2 linked regions of the Homo sapiens genome follow. The protein of the gene in region 1 binds, or shares a complex with, the protein of each later gene. Each region holds a gene or a part of one and is shown in the gene's direction. Other genes may lie near its edges.

Region 1 (9,830 bases):
GGCTAACAAGGTGAAACCCCGTCTCTACTAAAAATACAAAAAATTAGCCGGGCGCGGTGGCGGGCGCCTGTAGTCCCAGCTACTCGGGAGGCTGAGGCAGGAGAATGGCGTGAACCCGGGAGGCGGAGCTTGCAGTGAGCCGAGATTGCGCCACTGCAGTCCGCAGTCCGGCCTGGGCGACAGAGCGAGACTCCGTCTCAAAAAAAAAAAAAAAAAAAAAAAAGTTTGGTGTTTATATTTCCAGCCTTCTACATAACATATCCGAGTTGTATATGTGTGAATAGTACAAAAATAGTTTTACATAATTCATAGCAATACTTCGTAGAGCTTCATATCTTGCTTTTTTTCCTCTTAATATGCATTAAAAACATTTCCCCAAGGCATGTTTTTACAAAGCATGCTGTTGCACAGCTTCATCTTATTGTGTACCATAATTTACTTAGTCTTTGTGATAGTTAACCGTTTTTCTACGTTTTGCTTTTAAAGCAGTGAGCCAAGAAAATCTTTGTACATACATTGTTTTTTCACAGCTCTCTGATTATTTCCCGAGTATGCCAAAATGCTTTTGAAAGGAGGTTTTGCAGTGCTTGGTACTACCCATTAGACATACAAATGCTCATTTTCATCTTTTACCAACATTGAGTATTATCATTCTTATTAAGTTTTTGTTCGTTTGATAAGTTTGGGTCATTTATTTTATTTTGCATTTATTTGATTTCAAATAAGGTTGAGTAATTTTTAATATGTTATGCTATTGGCCATTTATATTTCTAATGTAAATTGCTGGTTTGTGTTCCTGGCCTATTTTTCTACTAGGGTATTTTTTTTGTCATAATGTTCTATGAGAGCCTTTTTTAAATGAAAGATTTTTCCATTTGAATTTCTATTAGTTCTTTGCCTTTTAATTTTAATTTTACATTTTTACATAGAAATTTTTGAAAAAAATCTTCTGGTTTCTTCCATTACTTCTGTGTTTGCAAAGCCTTCCCTGTTTCAAGATTAGAAAACAGTTCTAGTTCCTTCCAGCTCTTTTTTTTTCTTTTTGAAATAGGATCTCGCTGTCTTGCCCTGGCTGGACATAAATATGGTTTATTTTTTGCCTTTAACATTTTCAGATATTTGAACCTTTTTTTGTGTGTGAGCTAAGATCTCAACTCAATTTTTTTCAGAAATTTAGCCAATTTTCTCAGAACAATTAATTGAATATTCTTTCCATTAATTTGAAATGCTATTTACATGCTAAATTGTTATGAGAAGTTTCTGGAATTTCTGTTCTGTTGCGTTGATATGTATGCTGTTTTTATTCTAGTCATTTTAAGTAATGGAAGCTTTCTATTACATTTTAACTTGTGCTGATGTTCCTCCTATACATAGGTCACTGTGGTCTTCGTTTGTTTTTCTTGGCTGCTGGTGCTCACTTAGTTTCTTTGGTGCTTTCAATTTGAAAATATTTCATAAAGATATAAGCATTTAGTTGTATCTTAAAGGAGCCATCTTATCAGGTAAACATTAGTGTGATGGATTCTGAGATTCATAAAGCCCTGAAACGAATGTTTCCATTTTGTTCCTTTGGCAGCAGGTTGTCCAGAGCGTTGTTCATCTCTACGAGCTCCTCAGCGCTCTGCAGGTGCGTGCCTTCATCTTCCATCCCTGCGTTTATTTGTCTAGAGAACAGCAGCTTGGGGCTGTTGTTGACTTGGATCTTTGAGGTTTGCAGGATGTTTAATGGATAAATGGGGCCCTCAGTCTAGGGAAGACTGGCTCTCGTGGTGAGAAAGTTACAGAATGCATCGACCTTCCAGGACTAGAATTAGTGAAGAGCTGGTGTGCCGTAGGCATGGCTTGATAACCATGCTACAAATCACATAGCATGCTAACATGCATCTGGGAGATTACTTCACTTTAGAAAGCCTTAAGTATGATTATAAGTTTCTATATTCCGTATCTCTGTGGTATTTGAATAGAGTGGCCTTCCTAATACAGCTTCTGTTTCGGACTTCCCAGGAACATCCTCAAATTCTGCTCACTTCCTTTCTTGAAGATCTAACCTGTCTCGTTCCTACTTTCTCCCACTTCCAACACACACACACACAACCCACCCACCCACACAGACACACACACACACAACCACCCCCCCCCCCACCCCAGGTAATACCACTGACTGCAAACAGCATGCAACCAGATTGACAAAAACCCGTGAGTTCCTGCACCTTTGAGGTTCTTGTATGATAAACAGCTGCAATTATCCTGGAGCATTTTTATGAGACGGGCTTGAAAAATGAGGGGAGAGTTCTAGTCCGTCATAGTGCCTGGTGCCCCCTGCTGTGGGGTCGGGAGGGATCCAGAAGCTCGCTGTCGTCCTGGCCAGAGTTGCAGGGCTCCCCTCTGTGTGCCTCCCAGGGTGTGGTGCTGCAGCAGGACAGCTACATTGAGGACCAGAAACTGGTGCTGAGCGAGAGGGCGCTCACTCGCAGCTTGTCCCGCCCGAGCTCCCTCATTGAGCAGGAGAAGCAGCGCAGCCTGGAGAAGCAGCGCCAGGACCTGGCCAACCTGCAGAAGCAGCAGGCCCAGTACCTCGAGGAGAAGCGCAGGCGCGAGCGTGAGTGGGAAGCTCGTGAGAGGGAGCTGCGGGAGCGGGAGGCCCTCCTGGCCCAGCGCGAGGAGGAGGTGCAGCAGGGGCAGCAGGACCTGGAAAAGGAGCGGGAGGAGCTCCAGCAGAAGAAGGGCACATACCAGTATGACCTGGAGCGACTGCGTGCTGCCCAGAAACAGCTTGAGAGGGAACAGGAGCAGCTGCGCCGGGAGGCAGAGCGGCTCAGCCAGCGGCAGACAGAACGGGACCTGTGTCAGGTAATGGGACTCCCTGCCGAGAGCAACCTAATGATGATATTAATTAAGACCCCCTGTGTATTAAGCAAGGTAAGAAAGTGAGCAGAAATATAGAGCCTGTTTTTGGCCAGATGCTCATGCCTGTGATCCCAGCACTTTAGGAGGCTGAGGTGAGAGGGTAGCTTGACCAGCCTGGGCAACAGAGGGAGACTCTGTCTCTCCTAAAAAAAAAAAAAAAAAAACAAACAAACAAACAAAAAAAAAAAACAGTTTTTAAGAATCTTTGTAGCTGGACACAATGGCTCACACCTATAAATCCCAGCACCTTGGGAGGCCGAGGCAGGTGGATCTCTTGAGGCCAGGAGTTTGAGACCAGCCTGGTCAACATGGCGAAACGGCGTCTCTACTAAAAATACAGAAATTAGCTGGGTGTGGTGGCAGGCGCCTATAATCCCAGCTGCTTGGGAGTCTGAGGCATGAGAATCGCTTGAACCGGGGAGGTGGGGATTGCAGCGAGCCGAGATCTCGCCACTGCACTCCAGCCTGAGCAACTCCGTCTCAAAAAAACACACACAGAAAAACAAAAAGAATCTTTGTTTTACCCCGAAAGAGAGGCAGAGGCAGAAAGTCTTCTTCTGCTTTTTGCATCTCTAAGAGGCTGAAAAAGAGAATGGAAGTGCTGGGGCATTTTGGCCAGGGCAGTAATGGATATTTGGAGTTGGCACTTCCCTCAGCTAGAGGAGTCTCAGTGTGTCTGAGAAAATGGCAGTCAGCCATCCAGGATTTTAGGAGCAACGCCACTGCTCTGTGCCACATCAGAAATCAGGCATGGCCCCAACCTGAAGGAACTTGTAGCTTAATGGGGAAGCACACCAAGAATAAAAGAGCCTCCAGAACATGTGGTGCCTGTGGTCCTGAGACAGCAGGAAATGGCTCTCAGGCCAGAGTTGCTGGAAGAACCCATGTGGCAGGATCGGTGGGAGGCAGTTACAGAGGGAAACGCCCATCCCAGCAACTAGGGGAGGCCGCCACTCCTCTCGTGGATGGATGATATTCTTGCTTGGGGATGTTGAGACAGCTGCACTCTGCATAGTTCCTGATTTGCCTCTCTACTGCTGATGAAAAACCTCTCTTTCTCTATAGCTGCTGCTTATATTGGAAGGCTTTTGGTTATTCAGCACACTCACTCCTGAGCTTATTTCAGTGATATTCCTTGGTTATTTCGAAACATGGATGCTTGTGGCAGATGGAGAGCCTGGGTGTACACAGATCTGCCTGTGTTTTGAAATGCATACCATGTTGCCGTTTGTTTGATTGATTGATCTTGGACCACGAAAGAAAATTATACTGACAGCTTCCAGGGTAGGGGGCAGTTGTAGCTTTCTGCAGATGTTGCCAAATATATTGGGGGTGGGGAGCAGCAAATGCCATGTGTTGCTTTTTATGACATAAGGAGGGATTCCACCCCCATCCCAATAAAATCGGTGCTTTGACAAAGGAGGGTTCCCAGGCAGCTAAGAGAACCCAGAGTAGATGATCCTCTTTATCTCTGGTTTAACCTGTGACTAGGATTCTTGGTGTAAGCTCGGCTTTTCCACTTATCCTCTAACCGGAACAGGCTTCTATAATCTCTTTGCCTTAAAATAATTATCTGCATCCCTGTGTAGAGCAATCTTAAGCAGCTCTCCTTGTTTCTTCAGGGAATGGGAATTCTTTTCTAAGTCGCCCCATCAAAGGTACTATTGGTTTTTTACAACGCCGGCGTTTGTGTATGTAGTAAAAGTATTAACAGCATTAAAGGCGATATTTTTAACATGTTTATAGATACTACTTGGGGGAGGGCAGCTAATGAAACCTTCAAGCTCTATGCAGTCCACAGACGTGAGCTCTGTAGAGTTCGCAGAGGTGGGTAAGTACCCAGCCAGCACACCCAGTTGAATTCAGCCAGGATTTATTGAGTTGGCATCACGGACGCTGACAGCCTCCAAGTGAAAACCCTTCTCTTGAATATGTACAGGTTTCCCATCCACATACCAAGCTGATGAGGATCCCATCGTTCTTCCCCAGTCCTGAGGAGCCCCCCTCGCCATCTGCACCTTCCATAGCCAAATCAGGGTCATTGGACTCAGAACTTTCAGTGTCCCCAAAAAGGAACAGCATCTCTCGGACACACAAAGATAAGGGGCCTTTTCACATACTGAGTTCAACCAGCCAGACAAACAAAGGACCAGAAGGGCAGAGCCAGGCCCCTGCGTCCACCTCTGCCTCTACCCGCCTGTTTGGGTTAACAAAGCCAAAGGAAAAGAAGGAGAAAAAAAAGAAGAACAAAACCAGCCGCTCTCAGCCCGGTGGTGAGTCACGCACACCTGCTCTCCCTGTGGCCATAGTGTCTGTGCATTCTGAGAGAGGGTAGATTTTAGTGGCATGGGGCGGGGTTGAAAAGGGGACAGTTCAGATGCTCAAAAGCCAAACTGCCATCCTTTTCACCAGCTCCGCTTGCTAAGAGCACTCATGCAGCGAACATTAAGAACCCACTCTGTGTGGCACGTGTGCAGAAGCAGAGAGCATGGGTTTCATTTTCAAGGCATTATCCGATCGAGGAACTGGAGCTCACCCCTCAATGAAGTAATTCAAGTCCTCCTTGCCTTTCTGGGCCTAGAGTAGTCATTGGTAACAGCTAGCATTTGGTGATTTAACCCTCAAATGACTGTATGAAGTTGGCACTGCTAACCCCAAGAGAAGTGAGGAAACTGAGGCTCACAGAGGCTAACTAATGTGCCAGCGGCCACAGAGCCTGCGGCTGAATTCCACTAAATGCCTCCCTGTTCATGTACCACTTTTTCCCCTGAATCCTTCTCTTTAGGATTGATCTCTCCTTTCTGTGTGGGAGGTTAAAGAAAAAGTACATTTTCCTGGCCTCTTCATAAATTCTAGTGATTATTTAAAAGTTAAAGGGAGCATTAGGCAGTGAAGGATATCACTTAAGAACCTTATTAACCAAATTTGTTCAGAAACCCCGGTGCGCAGAAGAGTTAATTGCCCATAAGCCCCAGTCGCCTGTTTGCATTACAGAAGACTTTGGGATGGGGAGGAAGTTCAATGAAAGGAGCAGTTTTTCTGAATTTTTTTCATTCTTGGTTTTCACATTTCCAGATGGTCCCGCGTCAGAAGTATCAGCAGAGGGTGAAGAGATCTTCTGCTGACCCTCTTCCTCTCTGCTGAGGCAGCTGCCTCCTGATCCTGGCCAGCCCACCTCTCCTGCTGTCCCCGCGTGCACAAGTCTCTTACACTGGACGCCCACTGCTCCTCAGCGTCCAGTCCTCCTGGGCGGCCCCAGGTCCTGGACAATAAGCAACAGATGATATTGAGTGTCGGGTGGGGAAGGAGGCCCAGACTCTGCTTCGGCCATGATTTGTGACTGCCCAGGACTCTCAGGTTGGGCTGGCCCTACTCAGGATTACACTGAAAGTAATGGCCTCGTAAGTACAGGTGATGGTTTTGGACACGTCAGGAATTCCTAAAGGCTGAAAGAGTGTATCCAAGTAAGGTCTGAACCTCCGAATGCCTTTTATTTGGGGGAACACAAAACCAAACAGCAGATGTTTTGGACTTGATCTGTGTACGTACATGGGGACCTGTCTGCATATACACACGGGGAATGCCAGAAGAAGGCCCAGTCTGCACCAGGCGTCTGGTCAACTTAGCACAAGGGCAGTGCCTGGACGGACCCGGAGCCCCCGCATATCAGCAGTTCACCCAGTACTCCTCAGAGACTGGTTTCCCTCTAAACCCATCCCGGGCACATACCACCCGTGTTTTGCATGTATTTCTCATTTCATTTTAGGGATGACAAACATTTGTGAAACCAGTGAGAGAAGGCTTGATGTGTATAAAAGACGTGATGTGCACCACCTCGATCTCGGTGTTTCAGGCACTAAAGCAACAAAACAACCCATAGTATCTCATTCTGTCATCAGATCCAGAAGAAATATCCTGGTTTTCCAGCATGTTTACCCACATGTTTTGGCCATGGATAAAGTGAAGAGGCCTACTCACCATTATCCCTGCAGCGTGACACCTTTTGATTGTCACTGACCACTCAGAAGGGGCCACGGCCTCCTGGCTGTGTTCCTGAGCCCCCGTCGTGCCTCTCCCAGACAGCAGCTGTCTGGCCCTTGCTGGGTGAGGGCACACCACTGCCAGGGGTCAGCCTCGCACCCAGGCCAGGCAGAAGCTGTGCTCTGAAGCTAGGACAGCTGGCTGAGAAGTGGGTTCAGGCGAAGGGTGAAGCCATGTGTAGCAGTTCCTGCCAGTGCAGATCTGGAGAGGAGCTGGCCCGGAAGGCGTGGTTGTGAAAGCGCCCTTCTTATGTTAGGAGGCCTTGGCAAAATTGGATTTCTTCAAAAATACATGTAAAGGTCTGTTGTTGAATTGTACTCTGCCCCTGGAAGCAGATACAGATGGCTGCCTGCTGCTCGGCTTTGCTTTTGCTTTTCCCACCGTGTTTTCATCTTTGTTCACTTGAGGCTTTCCCCAGCTGGTGTGTGCAGGACAGTTCATGGTAATGTTGCCCTCTGAGGCCCCGTACACCAGAAGGGAGGCCCTGGAAAATTTTGTGCTTCCAACGTGGCCTTCAATTCTTGCTTTTTTGCCCCTCGGAAGCATGGGGCTTTTGAGCACACTTAAAAAAAGAAAAATCTGTAACTTGGTGCTTATTGATGAATTGCAAGCTGGCCTTGCAGATGGAGATATTTATCTTTCAGTTTATTTGAAAGAGGTCTGGTTTAAAATTTGTAGCCTACATTTGTTTTATTTATTGTATTTGTGTGTTTGTGTTTGTTTTTTTTTAAGGGTGAGCCAGGTCTAGCCCAACAGTCTAAACTATCCAGTCAATACCGAGTGAAGTGGCAGCCAGCACTGTTCACTCTGTGTCTTTTGAAGTGCCTTGAAGGCCCAGATGAAATTTTAAAGGGAGGGGGTCCATGTCCTTCCCTCCCCCACCCCGCCTCATTCTTTAATCAAAGGATGTCTTCTCCCTTGTTTGAGAATGAAGAAACTCGCCACCTCTGACCTACCTTTGCCTTTTTCTGTCATGGAGAATACTCACCCTTCAGAAACAGACCAAAGGCCAAAACCTGCTGATTTTTCTATTGAAAATATGTCCCCTTGCAAAGACCCTAAACAAAAAGTTAAGTTTCTTTCTTTCACCTATTTGTACAACTCCAAGTTACAGCTGAATCTGTCGTGACTTTCCTGAGATCTACCCGGGGCTTGGCTGTCTGTTCTGGGCACTGGCTCCGAGTTCCCCTCCTGGGATTTGCAGGAGGGCAGTACTGAACCTGCATTCTTCTCCTTGTAAATGTAGGCCGGGTGCCCCTGTTCTCCGGGTTTGGAACAATACGAGGTTGGTGCTGATGGGATTTACTTGCGTACGTGCTCTTCACAAAAACACCGTGGATGCTGAAGTTAGAGCACGTCGCCACAGAGCTTGACATCAATGTTAGAGGGTCTCTTACTCCCCGCCCAGCTGTGATGTTTCATCTGCTTTGGTTGTTTTGGTGGTCTTTTTTAAAAATAGAGATTTCACATCTGCCCAGACCCCACTCAAAACGATTTGGTCAGGTTCTGGTTGGACAAGTTTAAAATCAAAGTAGTGCCCGGAATTCCCTCAAACCACCCAACTTCATCCAGGAATACAGTCTGCAGTGCAGCAACAGAACCGCTTACCAAGAACTGTGCTTACATACCTTTGTCATCTCTCTTCCCCCCTTGGAAGTTGTCCTCAGGGGGATTTGTTCCTGTCCTGGGGATTTACCTGGGATGGTGGCTGCCTGTGCTTTTGCTCATGGCCTTGACAGTGCTCTAGTTGCTGGATCTAATGGCCTGTCTTGGTTTCTATCACATGAGAAGGGGTTGTTTTTTTGGGGTGACTCGGACTGAATTCCCCATACTGTTTCCACGCCGGGACACCATGTTCTCCATCAAGCTAAAGAAATCACGTGCCTGAAACTGTGCTTAAGTTTTGGGGGAAAGATGGAGTTCCTATCCAGAGCCCCCAGATTTCCAGAATCGAGTGAGCTTCCTGGAAGGAGACTGCGTCTTCTCTCAATTCCAGTCATCTCAGTCGTTGTCGTTAGGTGACATGTGCACTTTAAATGCTCTCATCGGTTGGCTTCATTTTCAAGACAATCAAATGTATTGACTGTGTTTTCTTCTTAGAAAATGGAGAGGGTTAAAAACATGCAAACTGCCACTTTCAACCTTTGCCAGTATTCCCTCTACCCCCGTGAGAGCTATCTGGGGGGAAGAATCCTTACCAAGGTTTTTTTGGAAAGGTACGAATCTTAACTTTTTTCCCCTTCTGTGTCTCAGGGTAATACTATTCAGAGTCGCCCCTTTGCTCATTTTCTCCCGTATTTGTTACCTTCCTGAGGCCTCAGTATTAGTCGTGAGCACAAAGTTTTGAGACCTTTGGCGTTGTTTCTTGATGTGGGAGGGGAGGTGTTAGTGCATGCAAGGGTTGAACTAGATAGACCCTGCCTTAGTAGAGGGTGGGACTATAACCTTAGAGGCCAGAACTTGATCCAGAAGTTGCTGTCCACAGAAGTGCTTTCTATTTCATCATTTTTGTTTCTAGGGCTCTTTTTCTGTAGCCAGGTCTTCCCAAGGATTTTAGTATTTGCATTGGAGTTGAGGTTTACTCTAATGATGGTGGCCCAGCTGTGCCCAGAGGACAGCCAGGCAGGCCCTGGGAGGGAGTTTAGAAAGACAGTCCTGGTGAATGGGCTTCAAGTGGTCACAAAGAGGGTGGCTGTGAGGTGACCCCAGACACTGCAGAACGATGTGCACCCTCTGCGTTTTGGATGTCCTTGGAATGTGGGAGCCTAGAAATAACCCTGTGGATGGAATTGGGGCAGCGGCTGCTGGAGATCTGTGTGCCTTGCCTTCCTTCAGCAGGACCGTCTAGGTGCGCAGCCACCTATGGATGCGTCCCAGCCAGC
Region 2 (10,416 bases), on another chromosome or scaffold:
GAACAGATTTCAAACAATAGCTCTGCCATTACCAGCGGTATTGGATGCTTCTGGGCACCTCTCTGAGCCTCGATTTTCTCATCTCTTTAGTGGAGATGATGATAATACTAGACACCTCGTTGGGACATTGAAAACTTTCCTCCACTCCGCAAGTATTCACTGAGCACCTACTGTGTGCCGGAGACACTGCAGTGACCAAAGCAAAGGCATTGCCCCCGTGCAGCTTGCATCACAGTGAGTCCATAAGATGCTGTGCTTGGAGGGACTAGCACATAGTAGGAGCTGTAAAAATAGGACTTGCTGTTTTGCTAGTGGAGCCAGTCACTTGTGTGAATTCATCTTTTGATATTTGAGAGTGATGATGATTTAAAGAAAGCAGGTGAGCCTCCGTTGAGGTTTCCTTCTCTATATTTCGACTTCAGAACCGGCCCCTGAGTAAAAGATGCTCAGGAACCACATATTGCTGCCTCCAAGCTTCTCAAGTTTTCACTTTTCCACCATCACCAGCATGGCCTGATGCTGTTCTGGGGAGAACCAGTCACAGGCCCTGCTTTCAAGCAGCAGGAGTCGTATGGGAGAGGCAGACAGGGGCGCAGCCACTGACAGGGCGGGTGAGCCATGGTGAGAGGGGCTGGGGCAGGGGCACTGGGCAGAGCAGTGTCAGGCAGGGCCTCCTGTCCCACCTTCAGAATTGGGCCTCGAAGGAGCGGAGGGAATGTGTCAGGTCGGAAGGTAGGGAAGGGCATTCCTGGCTAAGGGAACAGCCTTTGCAAAGAAAGGTTCAAAGAGGAAAGCTTGAATTCAGAGTGGCTGGACTGGGGGATGTCTGGAGAAGTCACCAGGGGTTGGAGTGTTGGAAGTTGCCCGCCTAGGGAGCCAGGGCAGGACTTAGAACTTGGCCAGCCGTGTTTGGGAAGGCTCTGGCTGCAGTGTGGAAGGCCTGGGGGCAGGCAGCACAGAGAAGAGGAGGCTGGATGGCCGTCAAAGCAGTGAGGGCAGTGGATCCTGTGCTCCTGGGCACTCTAGAGCACTGCCGGGCCCTGGTCACCAGAGGGCGCTGTGGGGCAGCAAGCAGTGGAGGCCCCAGCTGGTGGCAAGGCTATGCATAGACCATGTGCACCGCTGTGCCTGTGGGTTGTGTCTGTGGACGTGACCATGTGGTCCCTCCACATGAACGTACACACTTGTGCACCCCCTTGTGTCATGTGTGTGTGCATGTGTATTTGGGGTGTGTGGACTTGCACAGGTGTGAAGGGGCACGTGGGAGTGAGTACGTCCAAGGGGGTGTATATAGGTGAGAACAGGGACTCCTCAGCTCCCACCACCCAGCCACATCGGTCTCCTTGTTACTCGCCTACAAGCCATCCACCTCAGGGCCCTTGCACAACTGTTCCCTCTGCCTGGAATGCTTTTCCCCCGGATCTCTTTGTGGGTCCTTCCGTTAAGTCCTTTGGTCTCTGTTTATGTGGCACCTTCCAGGGAGGCTTTTCCTGACCTCCCTCCTTAAAATTATAGCCCCCATGTCCAGACACACACCCTGTCCCCTCCCCTACTTTCCCCCATAGCATTTGTAATAATTTTTTGTTTTTTGAGACAGGGTCTTGTTGCCCGCCAGGCTGGAGTGCAGTGGTATAACCTTGGCTCACTGCAGCCTTGACCTCCTGGGTTCAAGTGATCCTCCCACCTCAGCCTCCTGAGCAGCATGCCACCATACCCAGCCAACTTTTTTTTTTTTTTTTTTTTGTAGAGACGAGGTTTTGCCATGTTGCCCAGGCTGGTCTCAAACTGCTGGGCTCAAACGATCCACCTGCCTCGGCCTCCCAAACTGCTGGGACTATAAGTGTGAGCCACCATGCCTGGCCTGACATAATTTGACTTAGGCATTTTGCTTGTCTGGCTCACACACCAGGTCATACCTCCCCAGGGAGTTGTGTCCATCTTGTTCAATGTTGTGTTCTCAGTGCCAGTCACACAGTAAGTGCTCAATGAATATCTGTTGAATGAATGAAGGAGCTGCCCACATCCTGGGTTTGGGTCAGCCTCTCTCTTTTTTTTCCCCCATCATCAGTATTTATTGAGCATTTACAGTGTACTAGGCACAATAGAACATACAGAAAACATTTCCCTGCCCTTGAGGAGCTTACATTTTAAAAGAAAAAATACACCTCTTTTAAAATGGCATTTTTGTTTGGTGTTTTCTGCAAAGTACCGAGGAAATATTTTGTAAAGTGATGCTTTGGGTATAACTTAGCCCCATCATTATTTAAAGAATAGAGGAAGAAGAAAGAGGAAGGATTTTAAAGGCAGACAATGACAGACCATTCAGGATAGGTAGGGTTTTAAAGGGAGATAAACACAATCTCATCGACTAAGGAGAGATTTGCTGTAGTAAATAGGATGAGGGAAATAGTCTGTGGGATGCAAGCAAAGGAAGCAGGGTGCCTTAGACATTGATTGGAGCCAGAAAGATCATGCGGCCTTTTTCCAAGTACATGGCCACCAAGTAGGAATGGTTGGTGACAAGACAGAAGGCTAAAAAAGGAAGGTAATCTTGTGCACCTGACAAATAGAAAGAATAAAGGATCAAAATCGAAGGCAGGCTACAATAGTATCAAGAAATTCTTAAAAACCAAAAAGTGATTTGGAAGCACAAAACTTATAGTTAATGCTATTGAGTCAGCCTCTCTTTACAGCCTTCTGTCACCCCAGGTCCTGCCCACCTCAGATCATGCTTGCATCCTGACTTTGGCCACAATCCTTCCCATCCAGAGACTCAGTTTCCTGCATCCACAGAGAGCAGGTTTGGGACTTTTCTCCTAGGAATCAAGGTAAGAGGCAGCCTCTTGTGACCCATGTCAAACATTTATTCTGCTTTCTGCATGGTCATGGAGTTCCCCAATCTGACTGTGCCACTTACAGACAGAAAGAAATCAAGAGATGTCACTATAGCAAGCCAGCAAGAGACCTTTGTCTCTGATGGTTCTTGATGGTACTTCTTGAGCTCCAGTGGTGCAGCTGTGCATCCCAGTCTGGCCCTCACCTGGTCCTCATGTGTGGCCCTTTTTACATCTCCAACCCATTGCCTCTGCTGTTCCTTTCCAGGGATGCTCTTCTTGCTTCTCTGCCTGGTAAGCTCCTACTGGTCCTTAAAAGTCCAGTCTCAAAATCACCTCCTCTGAGAGGCCTTCCTTGTCCCCACCCAGATGGAGATGGCTGCATCACCCAGGCACCCTCCTGGGACTTTTGCTCATGCATCTATTTATAGCACTCACATGGAGTTTTGTGATTCCTGAGCTGTTTATCGGGCTCCTGACTAATCCCCAAACTCCTTGTATGCGAGGGCCTGTCTGAGTCATCTGGCCGCCAAGGAGGTTGGCACGGGACTGGAGTCGCTTCACCCTGGTCTGTGGATGCTTTCCTCCTTCCTTTTTTCATTCCTCAAATATTTATCAGGCACCTACTATGTGCCTGGTTCTGGGCTATGCATTGGGAACACAGCAGGGAATGAGGCTCGGATGGTCTGGAGGGAGAGCTGTGTTAAAAACTGAGTCAGTAACAAAGACATCAGCAGCATAAGTGTTGTGCCTCAGTCTGGGGACCATGATGAGAAGGCCTCTTAGGGGTGTTCATTTAGGAAGCGGTCTGAGGGATGAGAGGGAACCAGCCCCAGGAGGCTTGAGTGGAAGAATGTTCTGGGCAGGAGCAGCAAGGGTGAAGCTGCTGCGGCAGGACCATCCCTGGCACATTTGAGGGGCAATACTGAGACTCTTGAACATCCCAAGAAGCAGAGTGCACAAGGCGGAGTGTGGCCTTGTGCAGAAGTCAAGGCTGTTGGCCAGTGCCTGAACCCAGAAAACTCGCTGGACTAGCCTTGCAGTTCTGGTAGAAAGGAAGCTGCTCCTGGATGCCCATTTTACAGACGGATAAGCACAGGTCACCAGGGATGATATGGCAAGGATGGAGGCAGCCCACAGTGTTTTCAAACTCACATTTCCTGGGCACCTAGTGAGTGCCAAGCCCTAGGCCAGGTGTTTCCACTCCTGAACTCATGAAACGCTTTCAGAGACCTTATTGTCCCCATGGGATAGGTAAACTGAGGCACAGAGCTGCTCAGTGACTTCTTTAAGGTCATCCAGCTAGTAAGTGGAGGAATTGGTATTGGAACCCATACCTATCTGAGCCCCAGACTCATGATTTTCCATCCCACTGCCTGGGAAGGGTGAACAGGAGACGCAGGAAGAGAATGGTGATGGCTGCAAGGCTTCCCTCTTATCTCCTGTGGCTCCCCACTCTGTGCATGGGGCCCTGCATCACCCCCACTTTACACCTGGGCAAGCAGAGGTCAGGCCCGGCCTCAAGCCTTTCTAGCAGGTGGTGGAATCTGCTTCCCTCACGTGAGGTCCCTGACAGGGTACACATGTCTGCCTGGAGGCCAGGGGCTGACCCCTTGACCTTTGCCTGGTACATTCTGCCTTCACTAGCCCTGGCTTTACATCCAGAGTCATCTGTTCCCAGCGCCAGATTGGTCAGCGGTTCCTGAAATCCCCCGAGGTTCCGTGTGGGAGCAGAGGGAGGACTGGCCCATCCAGCCATTATGCAGATGGGCAGACTGAGATCCTAGGAGGAGAGGAGAGAACGAAGGTCCAGGAGAGAGCCAGGATGGGGCCTCGGGGCTCGCGGGATAAAATGCACCGCATGCCGCCTCACTCCCTCTGAGACACGGTTTCCCCCTGTGTAGAACAGGGGCAGCAGTAACCAGCCACGAAAACTCCTCGTGCTGCCTCGTCACCGGGCATCGCTGAGCTCACCACCGACCCCGCGCCCTGGCCGGGCGCCTGGAGCGCGGGCGCGGGCGACGTTTGCTGGCGCCAGGCCCTCAGTGCGTGTTAGCGAGCAGCGCCGGGAGATAGCTGTCACCGCCGCCCGCTCACAGATGCGTAGACTGAGGCTCAGGTGTCACCACCTGACCAAGGCTAGTTCCGCTACAAAGCTGCCGACTCGGATCCGAACCCGGGTCCAATTTACAGAAAAGGAAACTGAGGCCCAGAGACACTAGGGAGCTTGCTAGGGTGAGGCAGCTGCAGGTTCAGAGAGCCAGGAGGCAGCCCAGCAGCGCACTTTTAACCCCCGCCCACTTCGGCAGGCCCAGCCGTGCCACCTTTAGGGATCTCGGGTTTTTTCCAGACGACGCACCCAGGAGAACGCGCCCGCGCATCGCACCCGCCGGGGCTGCGGGTCTGGGGGTGCCGGGCTGGGCCTGGGCGCCTGCAGGGAGCAGCGGGCTCAGTGGGTCCCGGGAGTGGGTGGGGCTTGCATGTTGACGGGCAGCGCGAGGGGCGCGGCTTTAGTCCAGGGGGCGGAGCCTGACCGGACCTGGGTTTTTCGGGCGGCTGGCGGACTTGACAGAGAGCGGGAGGGGCCCGGATCCTGGGCCTAAGGAGGGTGGGGCGTGTGCTTGACAGGCAGGGACAGGCCGGCGTCTGATAGGCAGAGGACGGGCCTTGGAAACGAAAGGACCAATCGGGCACGCAGGGGCGGGGCCTGAGTCAGCGCAGTTCGGCCGGGGTCTCCCCGGCGCTGCCCAGTCTGTCTCCGGCGCCGCCCGTCGCGGACTCGTCCTTGCTGCAGTCGCCGCCGCAGTCCTCGCCGCAGTCGCCGCCGCCGCCGCCGCCGCCGCCGCTGCTCCTCCGCCTGGCCTGGGCCGTCTGCCCGCAGCCATGAGCGTGCTCGGCCCCGGTGGAGCCCGCAGTCCTCTAGATTAGTCTCCACCGCCGTCCAGGACCCACTTGCAGCATGGAGTCGCCCGCCTCGAGCCAGCCCGCCAGCATGCCCCAGTCCAAAGGTAGGCGCTCCCGGCCGGGACCTCGGCCTGACCCCGCGCCTAATCTGGGGCCGGGCTGCAAACCCCGACCTTTCTTTGGTCCCACCCCATCCTGTTCTCGACCTGGCAGCGGCGTCCGGTCCCGGAACCCCTTCCTGTTCGGGGTCCCGGGACCAGCCCCCGCCTGGGCCCTCACCTGGACCCCCACGTTAGGCCTTGGGACTGCACTCAGGCCCGAGATCACCCAGGCTGGACCCAGACTAGGACTTTGTTCTGCTCACCCCATCCAAGTCAGGAGCCTCATTCTGACCTCATTTGGGCCTTATGGCTGCAGCCTGGACATGAACTCTCCCAGTCTTCTCCCTCAGCGGGACCCAGGTGAGATTCACACTGGCCTTCACCTGGGTCCTTGGGCAGCACCCAGTCCCATTTCTAGCTTCGGGTCCCAGGGCTGTATCCAGGTTGGGATTTAACTTGAGTCTCCATCTGGGCCCCAGAGTGCTCCTGTTGTTGCGGACCTCACTGTACCCCCTATGCGGGTGCTCTGGCTACACCCCAGCTCGGAACTCCCCGTCCTTCTCTCCCCCAGCTCTTCTTATCCTTATAGGCCCTATGTTGCCCCTTCCCTGGCTGGCCTGCACCCTGTCCTGCAGCCCTGGGCTCCCAGGAACCTTCCTTGTCCTCCCACCCCTCCCTAAGGTACAGCCCCCTCTCTACCGGCCTCTCTCTGTCTTGAGTTGCAAGCTTCTCCCTGCACTGGGGGTTCTCACCCCATCTTATTCTTGTCCTGGCTGCCTGGGATCTGGGCCAGCCGCCAGGCCAGGGTGCTGGCTGTGCAAGGGATTTGCTCTTCTCCAAGTAGCTGGCCTTCCTGGAAATTTTTGTGAGGTGGCAGCAGCAGGATTTGTCATGCGGAGGGGGAAGGATGAAACTCGGAGGGCAAAAGGGGAATTTTTTTTTTTTCAGGAAGAGGAAAGGATGTTTTTGGTGCGTCGGAGTTTCAGTAGGCTGGGTTGTGCGAGAGATTTCCAAACCGGACATAGCCGTAATGAATGGGCTGCCTCCTGGCTTTCTGAACCTGCAGCTGCTTCACCCCAGCAAGCTCCCTGGTGTCTCTGGGCCTCAGTTTCCTTTTCTGTAAATTGGAAGTAATCGCACCTGCTTCTGTGGACGTGGGAGTGTGGTGTGGGGTGGTGAATAGTAAAGAGCTCTGAGGCGTTCTCTCAGCGTAGCACCTGGCGCAGAGCCGGTGCTCACCAGGGTACACTGGCTGCACACATCTCGCTATTGTTTCCATTCTTCTTGCTGGAAAGGCCTCCACTGCTGGAAGTGCAGCCTCAGAGTGAGCAGGAGGAAGCACCTAGCAGCGGGCACCTAGTGGGCACTTCATCAGGGGTCAGCCGCTCTTCTGTTCTGGAGGGTGCAGGCCAATGGGAGCCCTATGTGGGCCTGGGGAGGGCATGGGCTCTTCCTGGCCCCTGCTGCTGGCTGCTATGGTGGCTGGAGCCGGGTGGGCTGGATAATTATGCCTTACATAAGTGGGAGGCCGGATCCCTGACCATTGCCCAACCACTGTGAGTAACTCGGGAGGCACTCGACGGGGGAGGTGTCTGGGGAGGGACTTGCACTGCACAGACCTCGTGGAGCTTGGGAACCAGGAAATCAGACACTTCTCCACTCTGGAGAGCTCGGGGAAGGGTAGGAAGCACTGTTTGTTTTGGAGGCTTTTTAGCTCTCCAGGCAGAGAATGCCTCATCAAAATAAAAGTTCCAGTTGCAGAGTTGTGAAAGGAGAGGGGTCATAGATGCAGTGAGAATGCTGTGAGAGGGCCAAAATGAACTTCTAGATGTGGACCCAGGTCCTAGATGAGGTTGAGGGGGCTGGATGGAGGGTCAGGGACCTCCCTCAGGCCCAGGGACTCTGTAGTCTCTTTGGGGTCTGGGGAAGGATGTGGTGGCAGAGCCACAATGCCCTTCACCAAAAACCCTATGAGCTCCTTCTTTTTTTCCATGTGCCATGCATTTTCTCATTTATTCCTCATAGCCCCATTTACTGATAAGGAAACTGAGGCGTTAAGTGCCTTGCCTGAGGCCACACAGCTGTGACAGGCGGAGCTAGGGTTCCCCCTAGGACTGTGTTTCCACAGTGGCCTTCCCCGTGCTCCCCTATGTGCCCCTCCCATGCTGGATGCCTGAGCTGAGCTGGTGGGGTGCCCCCACCCCTGGCCTTGCTCAGAGCATGTGCAGTGGGCCTGTCCTCATGGCCACGTCAGACCTAGAGGACAGACTGAGGCAGAGGTGATGCCTCTCCTGTGCACAGCGCTTTACACTGGGCCTGTTGCATTCTCGCTGCAAAATCCCACTCATTTGACAGATGCAGAACTCAGCTTGGATGGAGGAGTGGCCGGACTGCCCCCATAGGTGGAGAGCCTCACTCTGTGCCCACCCCATCCTGGGCACTGGGCCTCCCAGCACTGATCCCTTCTCCACCTTCTCAAAGGAATTTGAACAAAGCAGGGAGTGGCTGGCGCTTGACCTTACTGGAGCTTTACCTTTGAGCTTCCTGCCTGGCAGCAGGTGCCCTGCACTGTTTCCATGCCATGGGCCTGGGGAGTTTTCTATGAGTGTGTGAGGCCCTCAGGCCCACAGCTCTGCTGGTTTTCCCCTGGCCTCCTTGCCCACATGGCCATCTCTGGCTGGGGTTAGAGGCCAAGTGGCTGGCGCTGGGGCCAGTGGGTGGGGGCATGTGTGCAAGCCACATTTGTCCTTGGAGGGTACCACACGTGTCCTGTTGTCGTTCAGAACATGGGTTCTGCCCCTTCTGCCCTAAGAGTGCCACCTGTGGGAGCACTTCATGGCTAATCTTCACACAGCTTGGACTGTGGCTGTAGGACTCCTGACTGCCCGATGGTGACACTGAGGTTTCATAGAGCACTGTTGTATCCTAGCCCTGCCTGCTGTGGCCACCCCCCCAACCCCTGGCTGTCGGAAAGACTGGAGGTGGCACCTCGGGGACTTCCCCCACCCCTCTTGTGACGCACAGGAAACTCTCTGTCAGCCAACCCATGGCCCAGCGCCCAAAGGGAGCAAAGTTCTCAGTTGGCCCGTGTGAGGAGAAGGCCGGGGCAGCGGAGGCTTCCGGCGGTGAGTCAGCGGGCACTGGGTGCTGACTCACCCGCTGGGCATGCCAGCCGGCTGCCTACAGCTTAAAGGGGCGATGCCTGCCAGCCTGGTGGGTGGGGAGGGGGTTACGTGTCCTGCAGGTGGCACCTAGCCCTGAGCTGGGGCACTGGAGGTGGCCCCTTCCTGGGCCTCGGACTGGGCTGGGAACCCCTGGGCAGGCCCTCTGTGCCCCACCCAGGAACTTCCTCTATTAGGCAAGGGGCTCTGCTTCCTCTTGCTCACAGAGCAGGAGCAGGTGGCAGTGACTGTTTACCACCCTTGGCCCAGGGGACACCTCAGGTTCAGCTGTGCAGCTGGGACTCAGGGAGGGTGAGGAGCAGAGGTGGTGCAGGGTCGGCTGGGGTGGGACCCGGCCTGAGCTCCTGGAAGATGGTGATGTGGAGAGGCTAAGACCTCAGTTTCCAGAGCCTGACTGCCTGGGTCCAAACCCCAGCTCTGTCCCTTTTGCGATGTGACGTGGGACAAGTTGCATCTGGTCCACTCTCTGCACTCTGTAAATGATTTCTGTCCCCTGGGCATGGCCCAGCTCTCAGAGGAGAAGCTTCCATTTCCTCATCTGCAGACTGAGAATGGGGACCCTGCTTGTCTGGATGTAGACAGTTCCATTCCACACTTGCTAAGTGTCAGGCACAAGTCATAGTGAGACTGCCCTCTGCCTGCAGAGAACCCAGCCGAGGCATGCCTCTGTCAGGCAGGAAGCCGGGGGTCCTGGGCTCTGCTGGGATGGCCCTGGGTTCGAATCCTGGCTCCACTACTTCCTTACCTGGGCAAGTCTTGTGCCCTCTTTAGCCCTCAGTCTCCTCTTCTGTAAAGTGGGAGTAAACATGCTCCCTTGCAGGGTAGTGGTCGAGATTGAAGATAGCATTTGTTAAGTGAATGGCACCTGTTATTATTTTATTATTGTTACTTTTGTGGGTGTAGTTCATTGGTAGGTGGATAAACAGTAGCAGGGCTTCGTGACAATGTGCTCGTAGGCGCTGTGACATGAGGCCTCTTGGCTGTAGGGTCCTTTCACGCAGGCCAGAATTTACCAGGCTTTAGGGCCTCTTAACCCACTGGTCCCCAACGTGGGGCTGGGGACTGCCCCTGGCCTCCTGGGCCTCCCTTGGGAGGGTGAGTGGGGAACAGAGAGCTGGGGCCTGCTCCTGCAGGCCTGCCCTGCCCCTGGCTTTGGCATGCAGCATTAACAGGACGAATATGGGGAAGGTGGGGTGGGACTGGGAATTAGAACTCAGGCCCCTGGGCCAGCCCGGGAAGCAAGAGGGCCTGGGGTCATGGTTCTAGGGGCTCAGTCCTGAGTCAGGGGTGTTGGGGGGTGGTGGGCCAAGCTGAGGGGAGCAACTGGGTGCCAGTGTCTTGGGAGGGTCCCAGAGGAGGGCTGCTGGGCAGCAGCATGGAGGACACAGCATTGTG

What was found.
Region 2: AKAP13 (region 1) and MAP2K3 share a complex: the UniProt entries of both Homo sapiens proteins name them as parts of the signaling complex.

Annotation. Positions count from the first base shown.
Region 1 is NC_000015.10:85,738,646-85,748,475, forward strand, and holds part of AKAP13 (A-kinase anchor protein 13), read left to right. Parts: intron 1-1,576; coding exon 1,577-1,627; intron 1,628-2,400; coding exon 2,401-2,850; intron 2,851-4,846; coding exon 4,847-5,180; intron 5,181-5,982; coding exon 5,983-6,032; 3' UTR 6,033-9,830. UniProt on the Homo sapiens protein: Scaffold protein that plays an important role in assembling signaling complexes downstream of several types of G protein-coupled receptors.
Region 2 is NC_000017.11:21,279,128-21,289,543, forward strand, and holds the start of MAP2K3 (dual specificity mitogen-activated protein kinase kinase 3), read left to right. Parts: upstream 1-5,583; 5' UTR 5,584-5,793; coding exon 5,794-5,842; coding exon of another isoform or gene 5,843-6,199; intron 6,200-8,908; exon of another isoform or gene 8,909-8,964; intron 8,965-10,416. UniProt on the Homo sapiens protein: Dual specificity kinase. Is activated by cytokines and environmental stress in vivo. Catalyzes the concomitant phosphorylation of a threonine and a tyrosine residue in the MAP kinase p38.